Linked DNA regions of Homo sapiens: all the other regions are linked to region 3. Evidence: fine-mapped expression QTL. A gene starts in region 3. Each other region holds a variant in brackets. All regions are shown on one strand. Distances are from middle to middle.

Region 1 (4,000 bases), 45 kb after region 3:
TCATACCTACTTTATATATTTCTAGCATTTAGCACAGTACCTCATTCAATAACAGTTTATTGCATTACTGTCCCTCCTTCTGTATCTTGTAAATTTCTGAGTGTCTCAGCCCAACAAAGTTTAGAATCTTAAGTAGGCTTATAGCTGTTCTTCAAGACCTGTCAATTTCCTGAGTGTTCCCCTCAATAATTCTTTAATTTTTATACCCACTGTTATTGGTCCCACCCTCTTCCTTCAGATTTCAATAATCAAATATAGTTATTTGCTTCTGAAATAAAGAAGGTCAATTCCCAGCGTGAGTGCCTGGTTTATTTATACTATATAACACTAGTTAGTGGATCTTGTATTTCTACTTTTATTTCCCAAGACTTTTAGATTTTCCCTTCTGTCTCCTGGACCACACCTGCTACTTTATATACATTTTAGACAGGTGAACTGAGATTTGGAGGAGTGAAATGAGTTGCCCAAGATCATGGAGCTAGGAAATGATATAATTAGTTTTATATGTCCTCAAAGCCTATGTGTGCTTTTTTTTTTTTAATTAACTGCAGCACACTGCTAACCTCATAAGCACTAGGCCTAAGCTGCTGTCTTAAATTATGTACTAATGTCCCTTATGTTGAATTCATTTCTCATTTCCAAATGGATGGTGAGGAGGAAGTAGGCTTTAGGATATAAATTTTTTCTTTTTAGTCAATTTTGTTGAAAGGAATTTGTTTATGTATTTAGTGATAGCCATATGATGGTCACTAAATTTTGTTTTTTAAATATAGTTTGACAGAGAAAAAGGGAAAAAATGTTAGGAAACGTTTCTTTTTTTTAACTCACAGTCTTTGAGGGCCTTTTTTTTTGTACATTGGAAAATAATTTTGAAAAAGTAAAATACAGCCATCTCTTAGTGTCCATGAGGGATTGGTTCCAGGATCCCCTTGGATACCAAAATCCGAAGATACTCAAGTTCCTTATATAAAATGATGTCATATTTGTATATAACTGTTACAGGAAAGGGGTCCGTATCCAGAACTCAAGAGAGGGTTCTTAGATCTAGTGCAAGAAAGAATTAGAAAGGAATAAAAGAGTGGCCACTCTATAGGCAGAGCAGCCCTAAGGGCTGCAGTTTGGCTATTTTTATTGTTATTTCTAGATTATATCCTAAACAGGGGTAGATTATTCATGAGTTTTCTGGGAAAGGGGTGGGCAGTTCTCAGAACCAAGGGTTCCTCCCCTTTTTAGACCATATAGGGTAACTTCATGACGTTGCCATGGCATTTGCAAACTGTCACGGTGCTGGTGGGAGTGTCTTTTAGCATGCAAATGTATTATAATTAGCATATAATGTGCAGTGAGGGGGACCAGATGTCACTTTCATGGCCATCTTGGTTTTGGTGGGTTTGGGCCAGCTTCTTTACAGCACCTTGTTTTATCAGCATGGTCTTTGTGACTATATCTTGTGCTGACCTCCTATTTCTTCCTGTGACTTACAATGTCTAACCTCCTGTGTCTCAGCCTTATTTTACCCAGCTCCTATTCAAGATGGTTTCACTCTGGTTCGAAT[A/G]CCTCTGACATAACTACGCACATCCTCCCTTTAAATCATCTCTAGATTACTTATAATATCTAATATAATGCCTCTCCATCCCTTTACTCCAATGGGATTCAACAGTACTCTCCATGCTGGCAAATTCAAGTTTTGGTTTTTGGAACTTTCTGGAATGTTTCTTTCTGAATATTTTTGATCCTTGGTTAGTTGAATCCATGGATGGGGAACCCATTAATATGGAGGGCTGACTATATTCTAATGTGTGATTTACACAGTTGGGATTGGATAAATGGAGAGAGAGTGAATAGATAAAAGAAAAATTTGAGATACATAGGTAGATGAGCCCATGAAAATATTAGTCTGTTGGTTGCTTGTAAGAAAATAAAGAATTAGAAAACTTCATTTTACTGTTGTACTTAAGTTTTGTTTGAGTGACCCAGTCTACTGAGTGGGCAAAGAATGTGCTTAGAACATGATGGAATTGGCATTTAGAAAATCCAACAGATAAAATATTATACTCACTGACTCATGAAACAGAAACAATTAAGGTCCCAATTTAGCATTCTAAATTGTCCAGATTCTGGACAGAGGATCTAATCGTTAGGCTCATTTTACAAATATCCATGTGGTAGAGTTGGAAGGATGAGCTAAGCGCAGAAATTGGTAGTGCTGGGAAAAGTTCTGGTTTAAAATTTGAGCCTCTGTTAATCTCTATAAATTGACTCATTTACATTTTAATGTAAATTTCTAAATATCAATTGAAATAATGGAGCTGTTTGAATTTTCAAAGTGGGTTCTTACCTGATTTTTCTGTTATTGATTCTTTCATGTGTAACTCATAAGTGCAAAGTTTATCTTAATTTCAGAGGAGCTGGAAGGAAATTAGGAGGTACAACTCGTAATTGAAGGGGAGATTCTAGCATAGTGGTTAACAACACAGGCTGTGGAGCCAGACTGCTTGAGGACAAATCTATGTTCTTTCTCTTTCTTGTTACTTGCTTTATGATCTTGGACAAGCCACTTGATTTCCCATTTTTTTTGTTTTCTCACTTGTACGATGTGGATAGTATAATACCTACCTTATAGGGTAGTAAATTCTTGGTAAATCTTAACAATTTGTAGTTTCTTCCTTGCCATGAACGTGTTCTGTAATCTTTGGCAAGTCACTTTATATCTTTGGGCTTTGTTTATTAATTTTGTATGAGGGTATAGATAAGCTCTAGTTTACCTTCTAGTTCTAGAACTGATTTTAGTAGAATAAAATGGCATATCACAGCTTATGGAATAAGTGTATGAAAAATATATAAATTTTGTTATTAGATAAGTACTTGAATAAATAAAGTTGTAATGTCAGAGGTCTGTGACTTGGTACTGTGTCACTTTGGGCAAGTCTGTTGGCTTCTTTAAGCTTTATTAGTTTTACCTATAAAATAGAATAATAAGAACTCTCTCATACAAGGATTGTGCTGATTTTAAGAAATGACACCTGCAAAATGTCAATTATAATGCCTGATTATATAGTATGTAGTTAATAATGCTACTGCACTTAAATCCCTCTTACACAGGGTCTCTGTTTTTCTCAGTTCTCTCTCACAAAGGAGTATCTCTCTAATTTATGCATTTGAATTTGTGCCATTCTCAGTATAAGATGATTTTAGCGTATGACTTAAGTGAATTTGTGAGACAAAACTGGGCAAGTTTTATCCAGTTCTTTGTGGAAGGAAGAGCCATTAAGAAACTACAAAAGATAGAAGTTTCTCCTAATGGGATTTATTTTGGCAGGATCAGGATTGAGAATACAAGGAAAAGAGAATTAAGAAAGCAGGTTAAAGGTAAGGTGTTCTCTAGATGTCTGCAGCATTAAGGTAGCATTTTATGGGAAACTGGTCCCAGCTTCTTTCTATCTCATTCCTTTATTTTGTTAAGGTTTCTCTCTGGTTTAGGATTGTATTAGATCCAATACATCCCCATTCATAATGATTTTTAGAATGTAATGCTCTCCAATAGGAATATGGCATTGGTTCTTTAACTAGTTTTGTTAGGCATTGAAGAAAAAACAACTAACTTTTCTAAGTTTCAGCATCTTCTTTTACAAGGGGTGGAGGAGAGAACGAGATTAAACTAGATGATTTAAATGTTTGCCTTTAGAGCCAATTCTTGATCTGTCCAGGAACATGGACCTTATTACTTTACAGCCTCAATAATGCATCCTTTCTCTCTTTACTTTTAACTTTGTTAGAATTCACTGTCTTTTCCTTCCCACCTCTGCCAGGTTTCTGGAGTGCTCTGTCTGAATTAATGGCTTATGGACCCTCTTAACAGAGATGAGAGGGAGAGGATAGGGAGACCATATTGCATATAGGATCTGTAGGTTTGTGTGAAGGCCAAGGAAGAATGGGCAATGCAGGGAAGAGGACAAGAGGTTAGATCTTGGATAAAGACTGTGTGAGTTCAAATTCTGGC
Region 2 (4,360 bases), 320 kb before region 3:
CAAAATAAAAATGTATTTCTCTCTCATGTAAGGGCATGCCACCTAGGACTAGTATATTAGCTATACTCATCAGGAACACCAATCCCATCTATCTTGTTGCTGTTCTACCATTCTCACATGTGACTTCCATTTCAAAGTGCAGATTAATTGCTCTAGTTACAGTCATCACAACTAACATCCCAATCAGCAGTAAGGCAGGACAAGAAGGAGAAGAAATTGCTTTCCTCCATATAAGAACATTATCCGGAAGTAGAAACATACTTATTTTGTTTCTATCTCATTGGTCAGAACTTGGTCACGTGCATACACATACCTACAAGGGAAGCTGAGAAATGTAGTCATTATTCTGGCTAGTCATTTTTCTAGTTAAGAAGTGGGTGTTCTATTACTGGGAAGGAAGAGGAGGGCAGACATTGGGCCACAATTAACCATCATAGCCACAATAAGTGGCTCTTTGGCCCTTCATGTCTTAATTAATAAATGGGGCTAATATTATCTGCTTCATTAGGATTTAAGAGGATTAAAGAATATATGTATGTCCAAGTACCTAGCATATAGTAGGTGCCCAATTGATGGAAATAAGTATAATTATGCATGTAAAATACCTTGTGCATGGTGGGTGCCAGTTCTCCCTCTTGCTCCATTCCCCCTGATTTCATAGATGTTGGATGATATGTATGAAAGCTAAAAGGAGTCAGGGCTTAGACCAGCGACAGACTAATGCATGTAATTCTTACTGCTTCTATCCATTTTCTCTCACCTATTCCATCTGAAATAGGTTAGATGCTAAACAGTTAGGACATGAAGACAGAAAAGTGACCCCTTGGCCAATTGCCTCTCAATTAAATCCATCTTGTAGCAATTTTTGGAGTAATCATTATCAGGGATCTGTATTAGGAGGAAGCAAAGGTCATACGGGCTTCTTTAATGATTAGAAACTCTTCATTCTAGGGATGAGGTTAGATAAATTAAACTAAGCTCTTAAAACAATCAGGCTGACCTCATCATCTCAGAGATCCAGAGCCAGGAGCCAAGCTCATGCTGGGTCTCCCTCTATGGGCCCCCAGAGTATGGCTGTCATTGATGACATCTAGACCAGGCTCTCCTGAGTTTCTCAGGGCAGAGAAGAGAGCTGATGGGGAAGGGTTCATCCAATATCTCCAATATTACCAATATCTCTTCCACAGAGATTGGATGGAAAGACTCCAGTCAACAACCAGATAGAGGCCACTTGAGTGAAACAACATTTAGGACTCTGGAAAGCCAGATTTTCTCCCAAAATTCTTTCCCTAAGCTACTGTGAATAGAGTCAGCTATGAGATAGTATAGGGTATGGGGCACCAGGGTCAAGGTTGAGCCCATTTGAAGTAGGGACATTCTCAGTCATGCACTTTGCATCTGGTTTGAAATCCATATCATTGATCAACTAACACATTCATTCATTCTTTCAACAGTGATAATTAAATACCTACTATGTGTTAGATCCTGGAAATGTTAAAGCCAGCCATAAAGGAAAAAACTTGACGGCAACTACAAAAAGCAATAGGCATTATGAGGGAAGTCAAGATTGAAGATGTGTGGGGTAAAATAGGAGAAAGAAATACAGTTCCACTCTTTGTGCTATTTGTTATTTATATGGCAACCATTTTCTCCTTCTCCTCAAATAATATCTTTTCTTTTCTATTTCAAATCTAATACATATTCATCACAGAAACCTTGGATACAGAAAAGCAGAGGGGAGGAAATACGAATACTATATAACCTCACAGGAGTGATAAGCACTGCCAGGTTTTTAGTTTATGGCCATCTTCCTACCACCCTCAGTTCCCTCCTTCCCAGAGTCCCTTGCAGCAATATGGGGAGCCCCTCCCCACTCATTTCCAGTAAAGTGAAGAAAGCTGGGACATTCCTTTAGGGAATGGCTGTGCTCTGGATTCCGCAACAGTAGATACAGTCACCCCATCCACCCCCATTTAAAAGGTTTTAAAAGCTAAATAGGGCCCTAATTAAAGAACATGAACTTGGAATCAGAGAAGGCAGAAGGCCATTACAAAGACTTTGGATTTTAGCTCGAGTGAGATAGGAAACTGTTGTAGGGTTTTTACCAGAGGAGTGACACACTCTGGCTTATGATTTAAAAGAATTATTGTAGCTGATGTGTGATGACAAGTTAGGAGGCAACTGTAAAAATCCAGGCAAAATCTAAGACTAGTTATTTGACCTCTCTGAGGGTACTAGCCTGAATAAAAACTCTCTGAAGATATCAGGTCCTAAACAGATGTTCTGGAACCTGTAAATGTTATCTTAAGAGGAAAAATAGTTTTCGAAGATGTAGTTAAATTACAAATCTTGAGATAGGAAGATTATTCTGCATCACCCAGGTGGGCCCTAAATGCAATCACAGCTGTCCTTATAGGAGACAACCAGAGGAAGAGAAGCCGTGCATAGCAAAGAGAAGGTGATGTGAAG[A/G]TTGAGGCAAAGATTAGAACGATGAGGCCTCAAGTCAAAAAATGCTGGCAGCCACTAGAAACTGGAAGAGGCGAAGAACAGAGTCTTCCGTAGAGCCACCAGAGTGAGAGTGTGGCCCTGTAGATATTTTTATTTTGTTCCAGTGGTACTGAGTTTTGACTTTTGGCTTCCAGAAATATTATGGAATAAATTTCTGTTGTTTGAAGCCATCCAGTATGTGGTATTGTGTTACAGCAGACTAGGAAACTAATACAGATTACGGCACTGGGAAGGAGGAGCTGCCTTAACAAATACCTAAACATATGGAAGTGACTTTGGAGTTGAATAATAAATTTTAAGGTACATGCTGGAAAAAGCCTATATTTCCTTAAACAGAGTATAAATGTGGATATTAACAGCATTTCTGGTGAGAATTGAGAAGGAAGTGAGGTGCATGGTAGAGAAAGCCCATATCATCTTAGAGGATAAATGTATTATCATTTAAAAAAAATTTATAGAATATGAACATTAAAGGTGCTTCTGGTGTGAACTGAGAAGAAAAAGAGGAACAAGTATTGGAAGCTGGAAAAAAGGTGATTCTTGTACAGTGGTAGAAAATTCACTAAATTGTGTGCTACTGTTGTGTGAAAAGAATTTGTAAGCAATAAACTTGGATATTTACCTGAGGGGATTTCCAAGCAAAGTGTTTAACGTGTGGCCTGATTTCGTCTTGGTGCTTATAGCATAATATGAGAAGAAAGAGATACTTGATAAAGAATTGTTAGGCAAAAATGAACCAGGATTTGTTGCTTTTAAAAATTCTCAGTCTATTCAGATTACAAAAGATGCTAAAATTAGGAGATTTACTGTTAGGAAAGAGCACTCTGGAGAGAAGGCCAAGGGTGTAACAGGACAATTTTTTGTAAAGGCTAAAGAGACTGAAAATGTGATTATTCAGGGAATATCTGTTGAGGGCCCTCTGGCCTAATAGCATAAATCCCTGTGGGATAGAAGGGAGATACACAAGATTTTTGAGAATGTTATAGCAGCAGTAATACTTCCAGTTTGGACTGAAAGGGGCAGAAGGAAGATAAAATAAACAAAGGCTATTGGACTTCCAAAAGGTCTACACGCAAGACACAAGACTGATAAAATGACTCAGCTGAAAACATGTGCTACACTTAGTGGACTCCAACAGCCACCTCTCATGAAAAAAAATCACGCTGAGAAACGCAATGCTTTTTGAATAGCAAGATGGGCTTGCCAATTCTTATATCACATTCATTCACAAATAGAGATGCCTGTGCACAACTATCACACAGTTGTCCTTTGGTGTCCATCGGGGATTGATTCCGGGACTCTCCAAGGATACCAAAGTCCATGGATGCTCAAGTTCTTTTATAAAATGATGCATACAACCTATGCACGTAACCTATGCACATCCTTCCATATAATTTAAATAGTCTCCAGATTATTTATAGCACATGAAACAATGTAAATGCTGTCTACTATTGTTATACTGTATTGTTTAGGAAGTAGTGACAAGGAAAAAAGTCTATACATGTTTAGTACAGACACAACCATCCATTTAAAAAAAAAATTTCAATCTGTAGTTGTTTGAATACATGGGTGTAGAATCCTTGCATAAGAAGGGCTGACTGTATTAGCTAAATATAAATTTTAAACAACACTCATTTCACCGGTGACAAATTATTTCTAACACTTCTCATGCTAATTAACAAATCCTCTACAGTTACCTTTCTAGTACTATTGATTTGCTTCCTTCAAATGCAAACTAACCAATTCTAGACTATGAATTCTCTTTAGGGCACTTCATTTGTTTAATTGACCACTCCTAGTTGGCTAATTACCTACATACTTGTCACCATGTTTATGCTGATGCGTTTTAAAG
Region 3 (4,360 bases):
AAGATGCACTTTCAATATAAAAATATTATGTATTTGTAAATACTTTTCAATAGTAGAAGAGGAAGGGCTGGGTGCCCTGCCTCACACCTGTAATTCCTGCACTTTAGGAGGCCGAGGCGGGCAGATGGCTTGAGGTCAGGAGTTCGAGACCAGCCTGGCCAACACAGTGAATCCCCGTCTCTACCAAAGATACAAAAATTAGCCGAGTGTGGTGGCAAACGCCTGTAATCCCAGCTACTCGGGAGGCTGAGGCACGAGAATTGCTTGAACCTGGGAGGTGGAGGTTGCAGTGAGCAGCGATCACGTCACTGCACTCCAGCTTGGACCACAGAGCGAGACTCTGTCTCAAATAAATGAATAAATAATAGAAAAGGAGATTAATTACTACTATTAAAGGCAGATAATCTTTTAAGTTTTTTTCTTTGTGATTGTGCTTTGTAGATAATCTTTGTTTATTGAAATAGTTCTTACAAACTATGAACTTAATAAGAAGCACTATCTAGTCATTGGATATCACATTCTCTAGCATCAAAGTTTATAAAAACCTTACAAAAACGAAACAGGAGGCTAGACGTGGTGGAATGACACTAAAAATTAAAATCTGTAGAGTGCCTAAATTTCTACCTAATTATCCATAATCTAAACTATATATTATACCACAAAATCAGTTCATTCTGGTCAAATACTCTCTTCTCATATAATAAACAGCAGTCAGTCTTGGCTTCTCTGTAACTGAGTGACTAATGAGCTCCTAAAAAAAAAAAAAAGTCCTGCGGAAACCAAGAACAGACTATAGGACTGATTCTAAATGTTTACAGTTTAATTTCATCTGCAGAGCATTTGCCAAACAGTATCTCTTCCGTACCTCATCTGATCCTCGGCAATCCCGTTAGGCAGTCAGAGCGGCTTTTATCTCGATGCTACCTACAACTGGGGCTCAGGAGGGGTTCCCGATTGACCAGTGCAAGACTAACAGTTAAAGCTCTTCAGACAAAAATTTTATGCAGTGATGAACAAAAGCTCCTCGTTTGATAGGTAAGCCCCTGGGTACGCTTATATGTGAGTCTGAAACAAAACACTCCCAATTTGGAGTCCGGAAAAAAGCTGACACTACAAGGTGCTGGGCAGTTAAAGTTCTCTGCCAGTCTGGGAAAGGGGCCAAGATGCCCTTTAAAACTTAAGACTTCCTCTCAGGACTTAAGGAGATCCCTGCCCTTCCAGCTGAGCAGTCGAGGATTACGGTCAAGCAGAGCTGTGCTCTTAGCAGGTTCTCGAATCCCTTTTTCCTTTCACTTTCTCCCCAGGTACCCTGATCCCCCACCCCTCAACGCTTCTGTGTTTGTCAAGAAGCCCACCTGGTCTTCTAGACCTGAAGCGGCAGGACCCTCCGTTCCCAATAATACAAGTCACCAAAAGGAGCGTCCCAGAGTCCAGTTTTACCTTCATGTGCCTCTCACTCACTTCAGGCCCAGGCCAGGTTACCGCAACCACTTCACTTTAATGTCCGCCTCCCAGCGCTTCAGACTCAACCACAATATTCAAACCCAAGCCACTTTCCTCAGCGCTTCGTTTCATTGGCTGCCGCTCGCGTGATGTCATCACGTCGGACGCTGTCACGGCTCGCGGCAGCTTGGCGCCAAGAAGCTCAGCCTGGCTGCGCAGGGGAAGCTCTTTGCTTGCTCGTCACCGTGGCAACGCGCGCGGCCGTTTCCGGAGGCGGTGGCCAAAGTGGGCGGGGCTAGGCCGGAGCTGCTGGTGGGAGGCAGCCACTTGAGATCACCAGGCCTCCTGTAGACCGGCGGGTGCAGGGCCCGGTCCCAGAGTTAAGGGTGTGAGTGAGACTGCTGCGGGCAGGGGTTGGCCTATGCCCTCTGCTAGGGGGAGAGGTGGAGTTTGGGTGTGGATTAATGGGTTCTGGGTGTTTATTTTCTTTTCTCTGAGTAGTGAGGCCTCCAAGAAGTTGTAGGGACCTGTTTCTTCCAGACACATTAATATGGGCCAAAATGTGGGGTCTCTTCACCTGAATTAATTGGAGATCTTTTGGGTTGAGGCCTCAGGCTTCATTTCTCAGGACTTCCAGGCCTACTCCCATTAGTACTGACCGTGAAACTATTTTCTGTTTGGTTACTTTTTACATTCTCTGTCTAATGATGGCATAACAAAATAAATTTAAAGATTTTGGCTTGGTTTATTATTAGGTGAAGTGATTTTTTTTAAGTCCCAGGTTATAGATATTATTTCAGCATAGACACTTTAAAAAGAGAGAAAATACCTGGAACAAATCGGAAATACGTTTGCTAAAATAACTTTATTTGGCAGGGTGTTTTTAATAACAGTATCTGAATTTCATTGTTCTATATATTACTGTTATTGTATCCATTTAGCAATTATTTAGATTTTAGACACAATAGTATGCAATGGAATCAAACTCTTCCCTCTTGGAGCTTATATTTTGTGGATTCAATATCACTTTATAAATAGGATGACTCATACCCATGCAGAGTATTATAAATGCAACAATATATGGAAACCTCTGTATTATGGACATTTATTTCCTGTTGAGGAAAATCGGGAGTATTGTGTACTGTATGTGATGCATGTTATATTATTGTTTCTGATCACTAGACAGAGGATCAATAAAGCTACTACTTATTTTTGGCTGTATTACGTGTATCTTAGCTAATGAAATGGTTATTTGTGTGCTGCTGGTCTTGGTAATAAAATCGAGATGTCTTTATTTCCAGTAAGAACTCATTGTATAGTACTTTACGTTTTGACTTCCCAGGTATTTTATTAGTCCCTTTACATATGGTCTCTCAGTTAATTCTCAAAACAGCCCATGAGACGTAGGTAATATTATTTTCATTTTTCTGAGAGAAAACTGAAGTTTTCAGAAAATTCCTAACACAAAATTTTGTCTTGAACTATACAGGCAAGGCAATTCAGAATTGAGTCATTTGTCTCTGAAATACTTTCTGGATTAAGTGACATTAAGAGAATATCTTAATCCAGTCTGAAAATATGCATATTTTGCCAGTTGCTTGTAAAATTGCATGGATCATTGGTGAAGAATAGAAGTGTTTTAAAGTTTGTCTTTTTTGACACCCACATTGTATAAGGTTTATCAGTGCCACAGATGTTTTCACACCTAATCCAAGTACTTTAGATTTCAAATTCAGTGTTACACTTGCCATTTAACAGTGTTCAGATGATGAGGTCCATATTTTAAAGGAATTGTACATTTGGTTAAAGCAGAGAGATTTTGACATTACAATCAATCCCACTACTGTGCCACCTTGCTCCTTGTAGTTTCTAAACATAGAGCTAATGAGACAGAAATTCCCACTTTTAGTTAAAAATTGGAGTATAACTGCTGTGTTATCAGAATACAAGTTTAATATACTTTCATTGTAAACCAAAGAGCAGAGATAAGGATAAATGAAAAGTTAGATTTAAAGTTGTTTCAGACCAAAAAATAAAAATGGAAAAAGTAAAAGTGAATTTAAACATGGCAATAGTGAGGTCTTATTTATTTCCCCCAGGAAAGTCGTTTGGAAACCCCAGGCCAACAGGACCCTTTGGCAGCTGAGGCTGGAAACAGCGGAACCAAAGGCAGACGGTCCTCAGTTGCTTGGGCGGACGTGGACCCAATCTGTCCGTCCTTACAAGTTTCCCCCAGGGGCAGGACCTAGACGCGCGGCGCATTCAGGTTCTCCTGGACCGTAGTGGTAGTCGCTGGCCCGAGTTAGAGGCCAGCTGAGAAGTCTTCGTGCTTCAGGTGAGGAGAAGGGGACCGAGTCCCGGGAACTCGTTTTGGAAACCACCAAACCTTTGGGGGTACTCCACAGGGGTCGCTGGATTCGTCCGGAGCAAAAGAAAAATACGCCCCTGACCCTCTCCCTCTCTTCAACACGCCTTCAACCTGGGTTTGGAAGTTTCCGAATAGTTTTTCCTCGTCAGAGCGTAATTCTTAGGCAAAAGGGTGTATTTTTCTCTTTCCTTAGAACCTCTTTCACTTTCTCAGCGTTCGTGTGCCAGCCGCCACGTCGCGTTTTTGTCCTTAAAAATTACATTTTCAAACAGGATTTCCCTGCCAGACAAAATTGACTGCAATGATTATAATTGTTAGAGCCCTTGAGGGAGTATCCTTCATGGGCATCACTCACCTGTGTGTTTTCACAATTAAAAGAGTAATCTGGCAATTTTATGCTCTCAACAGCCAAAAGTGAACTTTGCTTGTAGAGAAAAGTTAAATGACTTAACTAGGAGATCACAGAGGCAGTTTTCCTGACTCCCTGCTTCCTTATGACCAGAGGGAACTTAATCTTAAATCATTTAGGGTAGCTGGCCACTAGCAGAC

What was found. PIP is the estimated chance that this variant, and not a neighbour inherited with it, causes the effect. A credible set is the group of variants that fine-mapping cannot tell apart.
Region 1: its variant is the best candidate, but not a certain one, in a credible set for the expression of METTL15 in whole blood (INTERVAL, PIP 0.50).
Region 2: its variant is the best candidate, but not a certain one, in a credible set for the expression of METTL15 in whole blood (TOPMed, PIP 0.87).

Annotation. Positions count from the first base shown.
Region 1 is chr11:28,151,711-28,155,710 of GRCh38, forward strand. All of the region lies in intron 3 of METTL15 (methyltransferase 15, mitochondrial 12S rRNA N4-cytidine), which reads left to right. Among named protein-coding and RNA genes, the nearest start is that of METTL15, 45 kb to the left of the region's middle. The variant A/G (reference allele first, on the strand shown) is at 1,556.
Region 2 is chr11:27,788,344-27,792,703 of GRCh38, forward strand. No RefSeq gene overlaps it. Among named protein-coding and RNA genes, the nearest start is that of BDNF, 90 kb to the left of the region's middle. The variant A/G (reference allele first, on the strand shown) is at 2,470.
Region 3 is chr11:28,106,624-28,110,983 of GRCh38, forward strand. It overlaps METTL15 (methyltransferase 15, mitochondrial 12S rRNA N4-cytidine), which reads left to right and starts at 1,765. Exons shown (of 7, transcript NM_001113528.2): 1 at 1,765-1,829; 2 at 3,543-3,778. KIF18A (kinesin family member 18A) reads right to left here and starts at 1,533. Exons shown (of 17, transcript NM_031217.4): 1 at 1,441-1,533. RefSeq lists enhancers at 746-1,270, 811-1,070, 1,271-1,794, 1,981-2,060, 3,306-3,806 and 1 more.